2 separate regions of the Homo sapiens genome follow, and region 2 is linked to region 1. Evidence: fine-mapped expression QTL. A gene starts in region 1. The other region holds a variant in brackets. All regions are shown on one strand. Distances are between the middles of the regions. Region 1 holds the start of SPON2 (spondin 2). Region 2 holds the start of LOC124900837 (hornerin-like).

Evidence for each region. PIP is the estimated chance that this variant, and not a neighbour inherited with it, causes the effect.
Region 2: its variant is fine-mapped to the expression of SPON2 in skeletal muscle (FUSION, PIP 0.95).

What each region holds. Positions count from the first base shown.
Region 1 is chr4:1,168,581-1,176,906 of GRCh38, reverse strand. It overlaps SPON2 (spondin 2), which reads left to right and starts at 4,324. Exons shown (of 6, transcript NM_012445.4): 1 at 4,324-4,363; 2 at 4,833-5,055; 3 at 5,421-5,644; 4 at 5,717-5,908; 5 at 6,331-6,505. The coding sequence starts at 4,836. The region is part of intron 1 of LOC124900647 (nascent polypeptide-associated complex subunit alpha, muscle-specific form-like); the gene reads right to left. RefSeq lists enhancers at 3,711-4,428, 4,429-5,144.
Region 2 is chr4:1,144,659-1,152,984 of GRCh38, reverse strand. All of the region lies in intron 1 of LOC124900647 (nascent polypeptide-associated complex subunit alpha, muscle-specific form-like), which reads right to left. It overlaps LOC124900837 (hornerin-like), which reads right to left and starts at 7,554. Exons shown (of 2, transcript XM_047416541.1): 1 at 7,051-7,554; 2 at 1-6,435. The coding sequence starts at 7,554. The coding sequence ends at 4,825. RefSeq lists enhancers at 2,226-2,726, 2,727-3,227. The variant T/A (reference allele first, on the strand shown) is at 4,455.

The sequences.
Region 1 (8,326 bases):
TGAATGAATGAATGGTGTGAATGAATGAATGAAGTGTGTGAATGAATGAATGAAGTGTGTGAATGAACTGTGTGAATGAATGAATGAACTGTGGATGATTGCATGAATGTACTGTATGAATGGATGATTGAATGAATGTACTGTGTGAGTGAATTAGTGCATGAATGTACTGTGTGAATCAATGTACTGTGTGGATGATTGCATGAATGTACTGTGTGAATGGATGATTGAATGAATGTACTGTGTGAGTGAATTAGTGAATGAATGTACTGTGTGGATGACTGCATGAATGTACTGTGTGAATGGATGATTGAATGTACTGTGTGAATGGATGCTTGAATGAATGTACTGTGTGAGTGAATTAGTGAATGAATGTACTGTGTGAATCAATGTACTGTGTGGATGATTGCATGAATGTACTGTGTGAATGGATGAATGAATGTACTGTGTGAGTGAGTGAATGAATGAATGTACTATTTGAATGGGTGGATGAATGAAAGTACTGTGTGAGTGAATGAATGAATGTACTGTGTGTGTATGTGGGGGGCTGCTCCTGCCTGCGGGCACAGAGGAACTCTTCTGTGTGGGTGGGGGGACACCTTGCAAAGTGCTGGTGTGTGAGTTACACCTATGGATACTTATCCTGTGACCCTCAGCAGAAGGCAGGATAGAGACTTCTGGTTCACAGAAGAGGGTCTGAGAGCCAGGGGGGTTTCCAGCAAGACTCTGAGAGCATGGAGTCACACAAGATCACTCCGTCACTGGCCTGCAGTCCCTGCCTCAGTGCAGAAACAGCTCTGCCTGAGACCCCAGCCCGATCCAACCCAAGGGGCCACAGGATCCAGAAAATTAAGCCCACCTGGCCCCAGTTCTCCCATGTCCCCCTCTCTGAGCACAGCAAAGAATGCTCCCATGTCCCCTGGTGCCCTAGGGCCTTCGCAGGCGTGCTTTTGGAGGGGCCTCCCACTACCAAAGGAAGTTCCTCCTGGCTGCTGTCTACTCCAGCCCTCCAAACAAGCCCCCTCCCTTCCCAGACAAATCAGCTGTGGCCCTGCCTGGAGCACCTCCAAGGCCTCGGTCTACCACCACCCCACATCCTAGCTAGAGACCCCCAGGCCTAGGCCCACCACTGCCCTACATCCTAGCTGAAGCCCCCGAGGCCTGGGCCCACCACTACCCTACATCCTAGCTGGAGATCCCCAGGCCTGGGCCTACCACCACCCACATCCTAGCTGAAGCCCCCGAGGCCTGGGCCTACTACCACCCACATCCTAGCTGGAGAACCCCCACCCAGGCCAGGGCCCACCACCACCCTATATCTTAGCTGGAGACTCCCCCCACACAGCCTGGGCCCACCACCACCCACATCCTAGCTGGAGACCCCCCAGCCTGGGCCCACCACCGCCCTACATCCTAGCTGGAGACCCCCCAGCCTGGGCCCACCGCCAAGTGGGGGCCCCAGGTCGCAGAGCTCACTGAGACGGCATGAGGGCCGGGCTGGGAGAACAGCTCCTGCTGCCCCTGGGCTGTTCCGCAGCCTCCTTGGCCTCCTGTGAGACTGGGTGAGCCTGGAAGCCGCTGCCACGGCCAGAGCTGGACTGAGATGGGGACTGTGCCTCAGCGAGTCTCTGGAGCGGCACCCTGGCTTCCTACACAGGAACATGCCCCAGACCCGGCGCCTCCTTCCTCTCCTCAGACCCAGAGCCAGTAGCTTTGCCATGGAGCCTGTGCTCCTTTCAGCCGAGGAAGCTGTCCAGAAAGCGAGGATTGTCCAGGGATGCAGAGTAGCTGCAGTACAGCCGCCCCATGCCGCTCTGGGAAAAAGGCCTGTGGATTCGAGTCCAGCCTCTGAGCAGCGGCTGCCAGTCCTGCTCTGGGGACTCGTGGAGGGCCTGAGATCCTTCCAGGCAGATGATGAGATCGAAGCCCATTGCATGAGGGCACCTTTTGCTCCCATGCTCTGATGGGCACACGGCGGCTTTCGAGGGCTGCAGGCCAGAGCAGGCACCTGACAAGGCTGGTAACATACGCAGCCAAGGCTGGATTTTCTTCATAGACTTCAACCAACAGCACATCTCAGCAGATGAAGTGCTGGAGCCGATATGGGAATCCAGCTTCCACTAAGCCGGACAATACAAAGATTCGCACCAACGTAGAACCACGCCACTTTTCTCAGGCGGGTTTTTCATTTTTAAAAGTATGATTGCTTTTCATAAAACATTATGCTATTTATGTTAATGTGTAATAGCAATATTTTCTTATTTTTAAGTGAATTGGCAAGTATTCTGAACATTTCTGTTATGATTTAGAAAATGATAAGTATCCATAGGTATAACCCATACAAACAAAAAAGTTCTTCAGTGTCCTCAATTAGTTTTTTTTGTTTTTGTTTTTTGTTTTTTTGTTTTTTTTTTTTTTTTGAGATGGAGTCTCGCTCTGTTGCCCAGGCTGGACTGCAGTGGCGCGATCTTGGCTCACTACAACCCCTGCCCCCTGGGTTCAAGAAATTCTCCTGCCTCAGCCTTCTGAGTGGCTGGGATTACTGGCGTGCACCACCACATCCAGCTAGTTTTTGTATTTTTAGTACAGATGGGGCTTCACCATGTTGGCCAGGCTGGTCTCGAGTTCCTGACCTCAAGTGATCCGCCCGCCCTGGCCTCCCAAAGTGCTGGGATTACAGGCATGAGTCTCACTCTGTCGCCCAGGCTGGAGGGCAGTGGCACACACAGTTCACTGCAGGCTTGACCTCCCCTGGCTCAGGTGATCCTCCCACCTCAGTCTCCTGAGTAGCCGGGACCACAGACACAGTCTCCTGACTAGTTGAGACCACAGGCGCACTCCACCACACCCAGCTAATTTTTGTATGTTTTGTAGAGATGAGGTCTCCCTGTGTTGCCAAGGCTGGTATCAAACTCTGGGCTCAAGTGATCCTCCCGCCTCGGCCTCCCAAAGTGCTGGGATTACAGGCATGAGCCACTGCGCCTGGCCCTCAGTGACCTTTAAGAGTATGAAGGAGTCCTCAGATAAAAACATTTGAGAAGCACGGAGGTGGAAATTTGTCTTTGGCCTGGGGGCCTGGAGTCTAAATACTGCATTGAGTGGCTGATCTGTGGTTTTCGCTTAAAATACAGGTTAGATCATTTGTTTCTGTTTGCATTCTGTCCTAGTTGCTTCTATTTATTTTTTCTCTCTTTTTGAATCTGTGAAACATTAACAGGGTTCCAAACATCAGAGTGTTTTGTCTAAGCTTAAAAGCCCTCTGGGTGATTCCGATGAGCAGAGGCCGGGAAGGATTGAGCAAGACCATTCCCGAGCTCCTTCCTCCGCTCTGTTTCCAGATCCCATGACTGGGGACCTATAAATATTTTCCTGACATGGAGCAGGATCAACTTCAGCATCTGTTAGCTTCATCCCAAAGGCAGGGAAGCCTAGAGCCCCTGGGAGGGCTCTGCACCGCACACACCGCCGGCCTGCAGCCCCAGCCCTGTGCGGGGTCCTGGGGAGGGGGGCCCCCTTTCTGTGGCTCTTCCTGACTCCCTGCGCGTTCCACCCCAGACCCTCAGCCCACTCTGACCTCCCTCCAGGAGGGATGGCTTGCAAATGCCCTCTGGCCACAGTGCAGACCGCTAGGCTGTTCTGTGCAGCTTTAGGCCATGCCAGGAAAGAGACTTAAAGCCAGGGCCCCAAAGGCCAGGGATGCCTGCGCCGGGAGCCAGGAGCTTCCCCAGCCACTTCCAGCATGTAGACTGAAGTCAGGCCACGCACAGGGCTCTCCAGGTCACACCCTGCGCAAGAAGGTGTAGCACGCTGGCTCTAATTTCGAGAAGGTGAAAACAAGAGCCCCTCTGCCCCCACGCCCTGAGCTTTCCCGAAAGGCTTGGGGCAAAGAACTCCCCTCAGTGGCACCTAGGGAGGCACCAGGAAGGCGCTTGTTGGAACGGGAGAGAAACGGGGAGAGGGAGGAGGACAGGGGGGAGGGGAGGAGGGGAGGGGAGGAGGGGAGGGGAGGAGGGGAGGGGAGGGGAAGGGAGGGGACAGGGAGGGGAGGGGAGGGATAGGACAGACAGACAAAGAAAGGGGTGCGGCAGCACTGCCAGGGGAAGAGGGTGATCCGACCCGGGGAAGGTCGCTGGGCAGGGCGAGTTGGGAAAGCGGCAGCCCCCGCCGCCCCCGCAGCCCCTTCTCCTCCTTTCTCCCACGTCCTATCTGCCTCTCGCTGGAGGCCAGGCCGTGCAGCATCGAAGACAGGAGGAACTGGAGCCTCATTGGCCGGCCCGGGGCGCCGGCCTCGGGCTTAAATAGGAGCTCCGGGCTCTGGCTGGGACCCGACCGCTGCCGGCCGCGCTCCCGCTGCTCCTGCCGGGTGAGTACTGCGTGCCCCCGGGACACCCAGAGAGGGCCCGGGCCTCCTGCACTTTCCCCGCGGCCCAGAACCTTGTGGCACCTCCAGAGGGACCCCCAGGACTGGCTGCGACCGAGCTTTAAGGGTCTAGTCCCGGGGGCAGCCAGTCGGCCAAGGCCCCGGGTCCCTGCGACGGCGAAGGCATCCCGGAGGCCGCACCCAGACCGGCCCGGCAAGCTGCAGGGACTCGGACTGAAAACCTGCCCGTTACCCCTGGTCGCTCGCAGGCGCACGGGCGATCTAACCCCGCGCCGTCCATTCCGCTGATGGGGGTCTCGGAAGCACCGCAGGAGAGCTTTGCGGAGCAGGGAGGGGGTCGCGGGTGCTCGGGGCCGTCCTCAGAGCCCAAAGTGCCGCAGCCCTCTCGGCTTTCCACCCCGAGGCTGCCACGACGGTGCCAGCGCGCGGCTGCTCCCCTCTGTGCTCCCAGGTGATGGAAAACCCCAGCCCGGCCGCCGCCCTGGGCAAGGCCCTCTGCGCTCTCCTCCTGGCCACTCTCGGCGCCGCCGGCCAGCCTCTTGGGGGAGAGTCCATCTGTTCCGCCAGAGCCCTGGCCAAATACAGCATCACCTTCACGGGCAAGTGGAGCCAGACGGCCTTCCCCAAGCAGTACCCCCTGTTCCGCCCCCCTGCGCAGTGGTCTTCGCTGCTGGGTAAGTACAGCCCCCTCCTCGCCTCCTGCTCCACCAGGAGGGCTGCGGCGCCGGAGCCCCCCGCACAGCTGCACGGCGGCGCTTCCCAGTCTGGGGCGTGCTGACGTCGGGAGACTCTAACACCAGAATGTTTGCCGAGCGCCTGCGGTGTGCGGTTCCGGGGATGCGGTGGGGGCAGGGGGCGCTCACGGGGAGGGCGCAGGTGGGTCGCGGCAGGGGCAGCCACAGGGTGTCACGGTCCGACGTGACTGGGGGCCATGGTTCCCTGCGGGCGGCGGGGAGGGATTTCCTGGGGCGCCCCCTGGAATCCAAGCCCGACCGCAGTGTCTGACCATGGTCCGCGGCGCGGCCGGGTGGTCCTGCAGGGGCCGCGCATAGCTCCGACTACAGCATGTGGAGGAAGAACCAGTACGTCAGTAACGGGCTGCGCGACTTTGCGGAGCGCGGCGAGGCCTGGGCGCTGATGAAGGAGATCGAGGCGGCGGGGGAGGCGCTGCAGAGCGTGCACGCGGTGTTTTCGGCGCCCGCCGTCCCCAGCGGCACCGGGCAGACGTCGGCGGAGCTGGAGGTGCAGCGCAGGCACTCGCTGGTGAGCGCGGGGCCGGCCGGGGGCGGGGTCCGGGGGGCCGGGGCCAGGCGCGCTGAGCCGCTGTCGCCGCAGGTCTCGTTTGTGGTGCGCATCGTGCCCAGCCCCGACTGGTTCGTGGGCGTGGACAGCCTGGACCTGTGCGACGGGGACCGTTGGCGGGAACAGGCGGCGCTGGACCTGTACCCCTACGACGCCGGGACGGACAGCGGCTTCACCTTCTCCTCCCCCAACTTCGCCACCATCCCGCAGGACACGGTGACCGAGGTGAGTGGGCACCCCGCGTGCGCAAGGGCCGCTATGGCCCCCGCGGTGGGGACGGGGCTGGGGCCTGGCTGCACCCTCGCCTCCCAGCCCAGGACAGCCGCTTGCGGCTTTTGTGTGGAAGAGGCTCTGCTTCTAGCGCCAGCAGTGAGCAAGGGGGTGCAGCCCTCCCATACTCTCCCAACCCGGGGTCACAGCACCGCAGGGAGGACAGCGGGACGCGCGTCCCGAGGAGGCTGCCCCTTCCTGGCCTCGGTTTCCAGCCCGTGTTCCGTGGGATGGCTGAGAGGAGTACATGGGACCCTGTCCCCAACAGTGGTGCAGAGGGCACGCTGGACGCTGGGCAGTGGCCCCAGTGAGGCCATACGCATACCAGAAGGTGGGCTTCTCGGACCCCAGGCCAACCTCCTCTTCTTCCTCCCCAGATAACGTCCTCCTCTCCCAGCCACCCGGCCAACTCCTTCTACTACCCGCGGCTGAAGGCCCTGCCTCCCATCGCCAGGGTGACACTGGTGCGGCTGCGACAGAGCCCCAGGGCCTTCATCCCTCCCGCCCCAGTCCTGCCCAGCAGGGACAATGAGATTGTAGACAGCGCCTCAGGTAACGGACATACAGGTCACATGGGACACACAGCAGCCCCGAACCCTGCCACAGGGCGACCACCAAACCCGAACCTAAGGCTCTGAGAAATTCCAAGTAGGGATTCGTAGTGCGTACTGCAAGATGGTGCCTAGAAGATTTAGGATTCTGTTGATTCACACACTGAAGATGTGACTCTTGCACATTATTTGCAGTTGAAAGCATCTTACAGGGCCACAGCCCAGAGGAAAGAATGAAAGGAGGCTCCAGACAGTACCTGAGAGACTCTGTCCTGTCAGACACGCACCCACAGGTGACCTGTGTGTCACAGCTGACAAGGAAGCTTGCTAGGATGGCCCTGTGTGGCCACCGGGTGACAGCTATGCTGCAGGGCACCTGTGGGGGTCTCGGGACCCAGCCACCACACAGCTCGGGGCTCTGCTCACAGGCGCCTTGGCCTGGGGCGGGGCAGGTGCTGATGAGCATTCTCCTAGCTCTTCCAGGCACCTGCTGGACAGGGCAGGCTGGGAACGCTGGGGCCGAGTGGCAGTTCCCTCCCTACTCAGCTGGGTGGCAGCCACTGGCCTCACGGAGCGCCTGTGGTCTGGAGCGCATTGCTGGGTCGTGGGTCAGGGCCTGTTGGCTCTGGGTCTCTGGGTCTCACCTGATATGGGTGTGGGACAGTCAGTGTAGGCCCCAGACAACAGCGGACTTCAGACTTTCCCGAGGAGGAACTGGAGCCCACCAACCTGGCCATGGGCCCCGTCGTCCTCCACCCTCCATGTTGCTGGCTGGAGTTGAGGCAGGTACGGGGCCGCCCCACACCTGCCCCCCAAGCCATGTGGTAGGGACAGATGTCGTCTTGAGGAGCAGCAGTAATTACAAGCTTACTGTCAGCCGTCCCTGGAAGCAAGGGCCAGGTCAGGTCAGACAGGAGGCCGCCTGGCTGGCGGGAACCACTCCCCAGACAGAGACTGTGCCCAGTCCTGGGTCCCTCCTCATTTGGGATGAACTGGGCCTCCCTGTGCCAGCCTCGGTGCTGCCCCTGCCCAGTGCAGGCTTGGGCTCCTCACTCATTTGTCCACGCGGATGCCCCATTCCAAGCAGATGTCCCCGAGCCACTTACCCAACAGGCAGACGTGCCAGCACTGTTCGTGGTGTGCAACTGGTCTGGCGGGAAGAGCCCCTCGTGGGCAGAGGGTCCAGAGAGGTGCGGTTTGCCCCACATTTGGGGGCACTGGGCCACAGTGGGCAGGGGAGCACATGGCCAGTGCCCTGGGCTAGGAGAGGGATAAAGTCAGCTGTGGCCAAGCAGAAGCAGTATTGCAGGGGAAGGGTGGGGAGAGACTGTGCTATGAGCTCTGAGCAGGAGGCAGGACATGGAGAGAAGGGTGGGAGACGGACAGAGCCAGCTGTGCCAGCCGAGGGACCAGAGTGGGCAGTGGGGACGGAGCACAGACCACCGCCCACAAGGGTCTCTCCTGTGACTTCTGGCTTCCCGAGGGCAGAGGCTGGGATGGGCATGTGGCGGCTGGCACCCAGGAGGCTCCGCCAGGTCCACGCCAAGCCAGCCTGGCTCAGCTCTGGCTTCCTGCTCACACGCTGGATGCCTGTCCCCAGGCCTCCTGACAGGGCTCTGCAGCATTGGAGAGGCTTGTGGTGGGGCCCTCGCTGTAGAACAGGCACTGCCAGTGCTCACTGACTCCTCATTGCAGCCAGGGCAGGGGCGCTCCCACCACCTCGGTTTCAGTCAGGAAGCTGGGGGGTGCTGGGATCTGCCAGCAGCTCTGTGTGCTCCCCAGGTGGGCTGCCCGGGGCCCTGGCTCTCTGGCTTCTACACCA
Region 2 (8,326 bases), 24 kb after region 1:
CATCAAATTCCCGGGTTTTAATGCAAAAAAAAAAAAAAAAAAAAAAGGAGGGGGAGTAGGAAGAAGAGAATCTAGTGATATTCCTCACAAGTGCTGATTACGTATTTTATATCCCATTCAATCTTACAATGAATACTGTTGAATCCTCTTTTCAATTTATCTTGGTCATTACCTTTGAGTGTGCTATTGCAAAAAGTAATGACCCATCCTGCGAAAGATTAAGTAAATGCATCAAGCATGGAGGCAGAGAAAGAAACAGAGCAATGTGAGATCAAGTTTTGGGATGAGTAGCATGGAAAAAATAGCCAGGAAGAGAGCTGGGTGGTCTTAGAGCCCTCGCTGCTGCTCCGACACTGTGGATGAAGCCATATTTGGGACTCTGGAGTCTGTACAAGCCTGCCTGGATCCAAATCCCAGTCTGTCACCTGAGAGCTGTGTGCCACTGGGCAAGTGACTTACCCTCTGTTTAATTTGTGAAATGCAATGATGATTAAAAAAACAAACATCTATTTCTGTTGGTTGTGCTGATGATTAGGTTACTCTTTGTAAGGCTTTTACAACCTAACCCAGCTCACAGAAAGTACTGTGTTTGCTCAACACGTTCTCTGAGCCCAACGATCTCATCCCACGGGAAGCTTGGCCCCTGAGGTAAATAGCCCTGGGTAGCCGGCTGTTTTCCTGGTAACATATGAATTTTCCAGCCTGCAGTTGAAGGGGCAGAAGAAGAGGAAGGGGGACAGTGCTGGCCTGTCCACTTGCCTGTTGCCTCATGGCCCATCAGCTGGATGGGCTCACCCAGGACCCACTGGGACATCTCAAGGAACTGCAGCCACCTGAGCCACGGCGGCACTGGCAGCAGGAAGGCAAGTGTGGCTAGAGAGTGTCCTGACAGCTGTGTCAAGACAGGGTCTCAGTGATGACACCACGGTCCATCTAAAGTGGCTGGTGCCATCATGCCAGCTGCAGCAGGGAGGCACAGCCAGGGCTGCATGCTCCATGGAACTGGCAGGAGCTGCGGACAAGCAGGAGCCCTGCCCCTTCCGAGTTGGGTGGTAGCTCTCTGCAGACTTAGGCATCCCTGTGCTCTCGGGCCGGGAGCAGATGGGTGCCCCACTCTCCTGGGCACAGCTGCAGCCACTGAAGTCACAGCTGTAGACCCAGACCTCCTGCTCCACAGAGCAGGCAGAAGCCCCACCCAAGTCCCAGCTGCAGATCCAGGCCTTCTGCTCCATGGAGCAGGCAGGAGCCCCACCCCTCTGGGCACAGATGCAGCTGCCCAAGTCATGGCTGCAGACCCAGGCATCCCTGTGCTCCTGGAAGCCGGGAGCAGAGAGAAGCCCCTCTCCTAGGCGCAGCTACAGCCACCCAAACCATGGCTGCAGACCCAGGCATCTCTGCACTCTAGGGGGCCCAGGAAGCCCCATCCCCGGCCTTCGCAGGTTTGGAAGTGCCTGCTTCTGCTGCCTGGCTTCTCCCTGCTGTCAGTGTCCACTTTGATCTCAGAGTAAAGTCAGGGCGAGCCTGGGCACTGTTGCAGCCTGGCCAGGTGTGCACACGCTCAGGGCAGTGCTAATACACCAGCCCCCTGCTGCCTCAGCACCCTCCAGACTTTAAGCACCGAGAATAGGAGGGAAGCCAAGGGTGGGCTGAGGGTAGCTTGGCACTGGCCTGCAGGCACCCCTTGGCACCTATAGCCTGGACACCATGAATAGCAGCAGGACGCAGACAAGTTCCTGGGTGGAAGAGGGCAGGTCCCTGGTGAGGCCCCCACCTTCAGGCCAGGGAGGTCCTGAAGGCTGGGGACTGGGCTGCCAGTCCTGCAGACCAGAGTGGGAACTTCTGGTGCCTTTACCCATGACTGCCAATGTACCAATCACAGTGCACTTCCTCCCCTCTAAGGCCCATAAAAGCCCTAGGCTCAACCAGAGCTGAGCAGACATCAGGGCAACCAGATGCAGAGAGGAGCTACCCATTCCATGGCCTCCTCTCTGCTGAGAGCTGGGGAGACAACAAGAGGACCTGCCTGCAGAGAGCAACAGCCCACTCCAGGGCCTCCTCTCTGCTGAGAGCCGCAGGCACAAAGGGATGGCCCGTCTGCAGACAGGAGCAACCCACTCCAGGGCCTCCTCTCTGCTGAGAGCCTCAGAGATGACAGGATGGCCTGCCTGCCAAGAGGAGCTTCCCACTCTACGGTCTCCTCTGTGCTAGGAGCTGAACACGCGTTGTGACACCCTGGCTGTGGAAAGGAGCTGCCCCTGCGGGTCTCCTCTGAGCCGTTGTATCGCTCAATAAAGCTCGTCTTCCTCTTGCTCACCCTCCACTTGTCTGCAGACCTCATTCTTCCTGGTCACAGGACAAGAACTTGGGACCCGTCAAATGGCAAGGCTAAAAGAGCTGGTATAACACAAACAGGGCTGAGACATGCCCCTTGCTTGCCATGCTATGGGGGAAGAGAAGGAGAGAAGAGCTGCAGCCCTTCAGGGAGCCTAGACTTGGGAGCCCCCCAGGCCAGGAACAAGCAGGAGCCCTGCCCCTTCTGAGTTGGACTCCCTCTTTGGGGCCCTGTGGTTCCTGGCATACTGCATTCCCCAGTGCCAGCTGTGGAAGCTGCTTGCAGTGCACCTGGTCCAGCTGCAGCCTTGCAGAGAGTGGGCGCCCATGCCAGCACTGGAGCTGCCCACCTTGCAGCAGCTGCGGGTGTGCCTGACTGCACAGTGGCTGGACCCCATGCTCACTCACACACCCCTCACTGCTCTGTGCCTGACTCGCTCTTGGCAGGTGTGGGATCCAGGCCAGTAGCGTGAGTTGAGTGCAGCATGCCAGGCTGAGTGGGCAGAACAAGCCCAGTGGGCCCAAGCAAAACTCGGGCAAGGGTGCCACCAGCCACAGAAGTTTCCAGCTAGAAATGTGACACCCCAAGGATCCTCTGGCAAGCGGTCCCATCTGGCTGGAAGACCAGGGCCCACTGTGGCTGGCTCCCTCACCCAAGTCAGGAGCCTCTGGAGTCCTCCTTCCCACGGATGCTGCTGTCCACGCCTCCCTCCTCAGTTCCTGCCAAGGCTCTTCTCTGACTGACTGCTCCTCCTCACCTGGTCTTCCCAAGCCTCCCTACTCTCTGTTCTTCCCACTCAGCAGTCTCCTTAACCATCACCCTTGGGCAATTATTTAGATTTAGAGCTTGGCTACTTAAAACTCACTGTTATGGAAAACTTTGAAAGTGCATCAGGGCCAGGCATGGTGGTTCACACCTGTAATCCCAGCACTTTGGGAGGCCGAGGCATGTGATCACTTGAGGTCAGGGGTTCAAGACCAGCCTGGCCAACATGGTAAAACCCCGTCTCTACTAAAAATACAAAGAAGAAAAAAAATTAGCCAGGAGTAGTGGTGGACACCTGCAGTCCTGGCTACTTGGGAGGCTGAAGCAGAAGAATCACTTGAACCCAGGAGGCAGAGGTTGTAGTGAGCCGAGATCGCGTCACTGCACTCCAGCCTGGGTGACAGAATGAGACTCCATCTCAAAAAAAAAAAAAAAAAAAAAAGGCGCATCAGGCCACAGTTTTAACTTTTCTTTAAAAGAGAACAGTATGCCCTTAAAGTCCAAGAGCTACAGACTGGTCCTGGAAGCCATCCTGTGGGTCTGGTGCTCCTCACCCACTGCCCTGTGGTGGAGGAGCCCACACCTGCCCCACACCCTAGTGCCAAGGGAGCCTCTGCACTGGCGCTCTGGGGTGGCTGCTCGCCTTTTCCTTGCCGGGGAGCACAGCCCACAGCTGTCCATAGTGCAGGAACTACATCTCCACAACTGTATCCAATCATCCTTGTTCTGCCATCTGGGTCCACTCAAAATAAATACACATTTTTTCACCTGAAAGTCCGTCATAACTGAAGTCACAGATTCCACCCATCCCAGATTTCTCTTTGCAGGCTAACTCTCCTTAGTTGCCAAGTGCGCGGTTTTGCTCCAGTTTGTAACACACATGCGTGAAAGTATCTCGTTTGGGTCAAGCTAAGAGCTGGGAGCTGAAGACTCTGTAGGGCAAGACAGGCGAGCTCCCTGGGCCTGCCCCTGCCCCTGCCCCTGACTGCATTCAGCAAAGAAGCCGCAAAGCATGTAACCCAAGAAAGAAGAACTCACCGCTGACCCAGGACAGCCAGCCCAGAGGAGGCCGAGGGAGCAGGCTGTGGAGACTGAGGCAGGAGGGTGGAAGGCTCTGGCAAAAACGGGGGATGGGCATAAGACAAAAGAAGACTATTACTCAGACATGGAAAAACCGAGGACAGAAAATGGGCAAATCGTACAAGGAGAGAAAAGCAAACCAAACTCATCAAAACCAATTAAACAAACAACCACAAGTAAGTCATGGTCCAAATATGATGCCCTCAATTTCCCACAGATTGAGTGGTGCGAAGCTGGCTGGGGGGAGAGCCGGGATTGGCCTTTTACCTTGGCTGCT[T/A]TGGTCTACCAGCAGGCTGCTGGGACACAGGCCCTGTGCTGGGGGACGGGGATGGGGACAGGAGGATATCTGGGTCCCCTTCCCAGTTTCATGTCGCTCATAAAAGTGGTCATTTTGCTCTGTGTCAGCAGGGACACTTCCGGTTTGAAGGTGTATTAGGACTGAATGAGCTCTTTGAGGGCATGAACTCTTCTATTAACCTTTGTATCCCCAAAGCCTATTGCAGTGCCTGGCACATGTGGAGTGAGTGCTTTTAATCAGAACTGAACAAACTGCAGGATGAACTGTGGTTCTAAGACTTCCACACACATTGAGACGAATTTGAAAGTCAGATTCTAATTACAAGCATGCAGCCAGATGTGGATGCATCTCACTTCTTGACTTGGCTGAAAACTAACATACAAAAGCCTTTCTGAAATCCATTTCCATGATATCCACGGTGTTCTAAACTCTCCCTGTCAGTGCCATTTCCATGATATCCATGGTGTTCTAAACTCTCGCTGTGGGTGCCATTTCCATGATATCCACGGTGTTCTAAACTCTCCCCATCAGTGCCATTTCCACGATATCCATGGTGTTCTAAACTCTCCCCATTGGTGCCATTTCCATGATATCCACGGCGTTCTAAACTCTCCCCGTCGGTGCCATTTCCATGATATCCACGGTGTTCTAAACTCTCGCTGTGGGTGCCATTTCCATGATATCCACAGCGTTCTAAACTCTCGCTGTCAGTGCCATTTCCATGATATCCACGGTGTTCTAAACTCTCGCTGTCAGTGCCATTTCCATGATATCCACGGTGTTCTAAACTCTCGCTGTGGGTGCCATTTCCATGATATCCACAGTGTTCTAAACTCTCCCTGTTGGTGCCATTTCCATGATATCCACGGTGTTCTAAACTCTCGCTGTCAGTGCCATTTCCATGATATCCACGGTGTTCTAAACTCTCGCTGTCAGTGCCATTTCCATGATATCCACGGTGTTCTAAACTCTCGCTGTGGGTGCCATTTCCATGATATCCACGGTGTTCTAAACTCTCCCTGTTGGTGCCATTTCCATGATATCCACGACGTTCTAAGCTCTCCCTGTCGGTGCCATTTCCATGATATCCATGGTGTTCTAAACTCTCGCTGTGGGTGCCATTTCCATGATATCCACGGTGTTCTAAACTCTCGCTGTGGGTGCCATTTCCATGATATCCACGGTGTTCTAAACTCTCCCTGTTGGTGCCATTTCCATGATATCCACGACGTTCTAAGCTCTCCCTGTCGGTGCCATTTCCATGATATCCATGGCGTTCTAAACTCTCCCTGTCAGTGCCATTTCCATGATATCCATGGTGTTCTAAACTCTCGCTGTGGGTGCCATTTCCATGATATCCACGGCGTTCTAAACTCTCCCTGTCGGTGCCATTTCCATGATATCCACGGCGTTCTAAACTCTCCCCGTCGGTGCCATTTCCATGATATCCATGGCGTTCTAAGCTCTCCCCGTCGGTGACATTTCCATGATATCCACGGCGTTCTAAACTCTCCCCATCGGTGCCATTTCCATAATATCCACGGCGTTCTAAACTCTCCCCATCGGTGCCATTTCCATGATATCCATGGCATTCTAAGCTCTCCCCGTCGGTGCCATTTCCATGATATCCACGGCGTCCTAAGCTCTCCCCATCGGTGCCATTTCCATGATATCCACAGCATTCTAAACTCTCGCTGTCGGTGCCATTTCCATGATATCCACAGTGTCCTAAGCTCTCCCCGTCGGTGCCATTTCCATGATATCCATGGCGTTCTAAACTCTCCCCATCGGTACCATTTCCATGATATCCATGGTGTTCTAAACTCTCCCCATCGGTGCCATTTCCATGATATGCACGGCGTTCTAAGCTCTCCCTGTCAGTGCCATTTCCATGATATCCACGGCATTCTAAGCTCTCCCCGTCGGTGCCACTTCCATGATATCCACGGTGTTCTAAGCTCTGTCAGTGTCACTTCCATGATATCCACAGCGTTCTAAGCTCTCCCCATCGGTGCCATTTCCATGATATCCACGGCGTTTTAAACTCTCCGTCAGTGCCATTTCCATGATATCCACGGCGTTCTAAACTCTCCCCATCGGTACCATTTCCATGATATCCACGGTGTTCTAAACTCTCCCCATCGGTGCCATTTCCATGATATGCACGGCGTTCTAAGCTCTCCCTGTCAGTGCCATTTCCATGATATCCACGGCATTCTAAGCTCTCCTCGTCGGTGCCACTTCCATGATATCCACAGTGTTCTAAGCTCTGTCAGTGTCACTTCCATGATATCCACAGCGTTCTAAGCTCTCCCCATCGGTGCCATTTCCATGATATCCACGGTGTTTTAAACTCTCCCCGTTGGTGCCACTTCCGTGATATCCACGGCGTTCTAAGCTCTCCCCATCAGTGCCATTTCCATGATATCCACGGCATTCTAAACTCTCGCTATGGGTGCTATTTCCATGATATCCACGGCGTTCTAAGCTCTCCCCATCGGTGCCATTTCCAAGATATCCACGGTGTTCTGAACTCTCCCCGTTGGTGCCATTTCCGAGCTCTCCCCGTCGGTGCCATTTCCATGATATCCGCGGCGTCCTGAGCTCTCCCCGTCGGTGCCATTTCCATGATATCCACGGCGTCCTGAGCTCTCCCCGTCGGTGCCATTTCCATGATATCCGCGGCGTCCTGAGCTCTCCCCGTCGGTGCCATTTCCATGATATCCACGGCGTCCTGAGCTCTCCCCGTCGGTGCCATTTCCATGATATCCACGGCGTCCTGAGCTCTCCCCGTCGGTGCCATTTCCATGATATCCACGGCGTCCTGAGCTCTCCCCGTCGGTGCCATTTCCATGATATCCAGGGCGTCCTGAGCTCTCCCCGTCGGTGCCATTTCCATGATATCCACGGCGTCCTGAGCTCTCCCCGTCGGTGCCATTTCCATGATATCCACGGCGTCCTGAGCTCTCCCCGTCGGTGCCATTTCCATGATATCCACGGCGTCCTGAGCTCTCCCCGTCGGTGCCATTTCCATGATATCCACGGCGTCCTGAGCTCTCCCCGTCGGTGCCACTTCCATGATATCCACGGTGTTCTAAGCTCTGTCAGTGTCACTTCCATGATATCCACAGCGTTCTAAGCTCTCCCCATCGGTGCCATTTCCATGATATCCACGGCGTTTTAAACTCTCCCTGTCAGTGCCATTTCCATGATATCCACGGCGTTCTAAACTCTCCCCATCGGTACCATTTCCATGATATCCACGGTGTTCTAAACTCTCCCCATCGGTGCCATTTCCATGATATGCACGGCGTTCTAAGCTCTCCCTGTCAGTGCCATTTCCATGATATCCACGGCATTCTAAGCTCTCCTCGTCGGTGCCACTTCCATGATATCCACAGTGTTCTAAGCTCTGTCAGTGTCACTTCCATGATATCCACAGCGTTCTAAGCTCTCCCCATCGGTGCCATTTCCATGATATCCACGGTGTTTTAAACTCTCCCCGTCGGTGCCACTTCCGTGATATCCACGGCATTCTAAGCTCTCCCCATCGGTGCCATTTCCATGATATCCACGGCATTCTAAACTCTCGCTATGGGTGCTATTTCCATGATATCCACGGCGTTCTAAGCTCTCCCCATCGGTGCCATTTCCAAGATATCCACGGTGTTCTGAACTCTCCCCGTTGGTGCCATTTCCGAGCTCTCCCCGTCGGTGCCATTTCCATGATATCCGCGGCATCCTGAGCTCTCCCCGTCGGTGCCATTTCCATGATATCCACGGCGTCCTGAGCTCTCCCCGTCGGTGCCATTTCCATGATATCCACGGCGTCCTGAGCTCTCCCCGTCGGT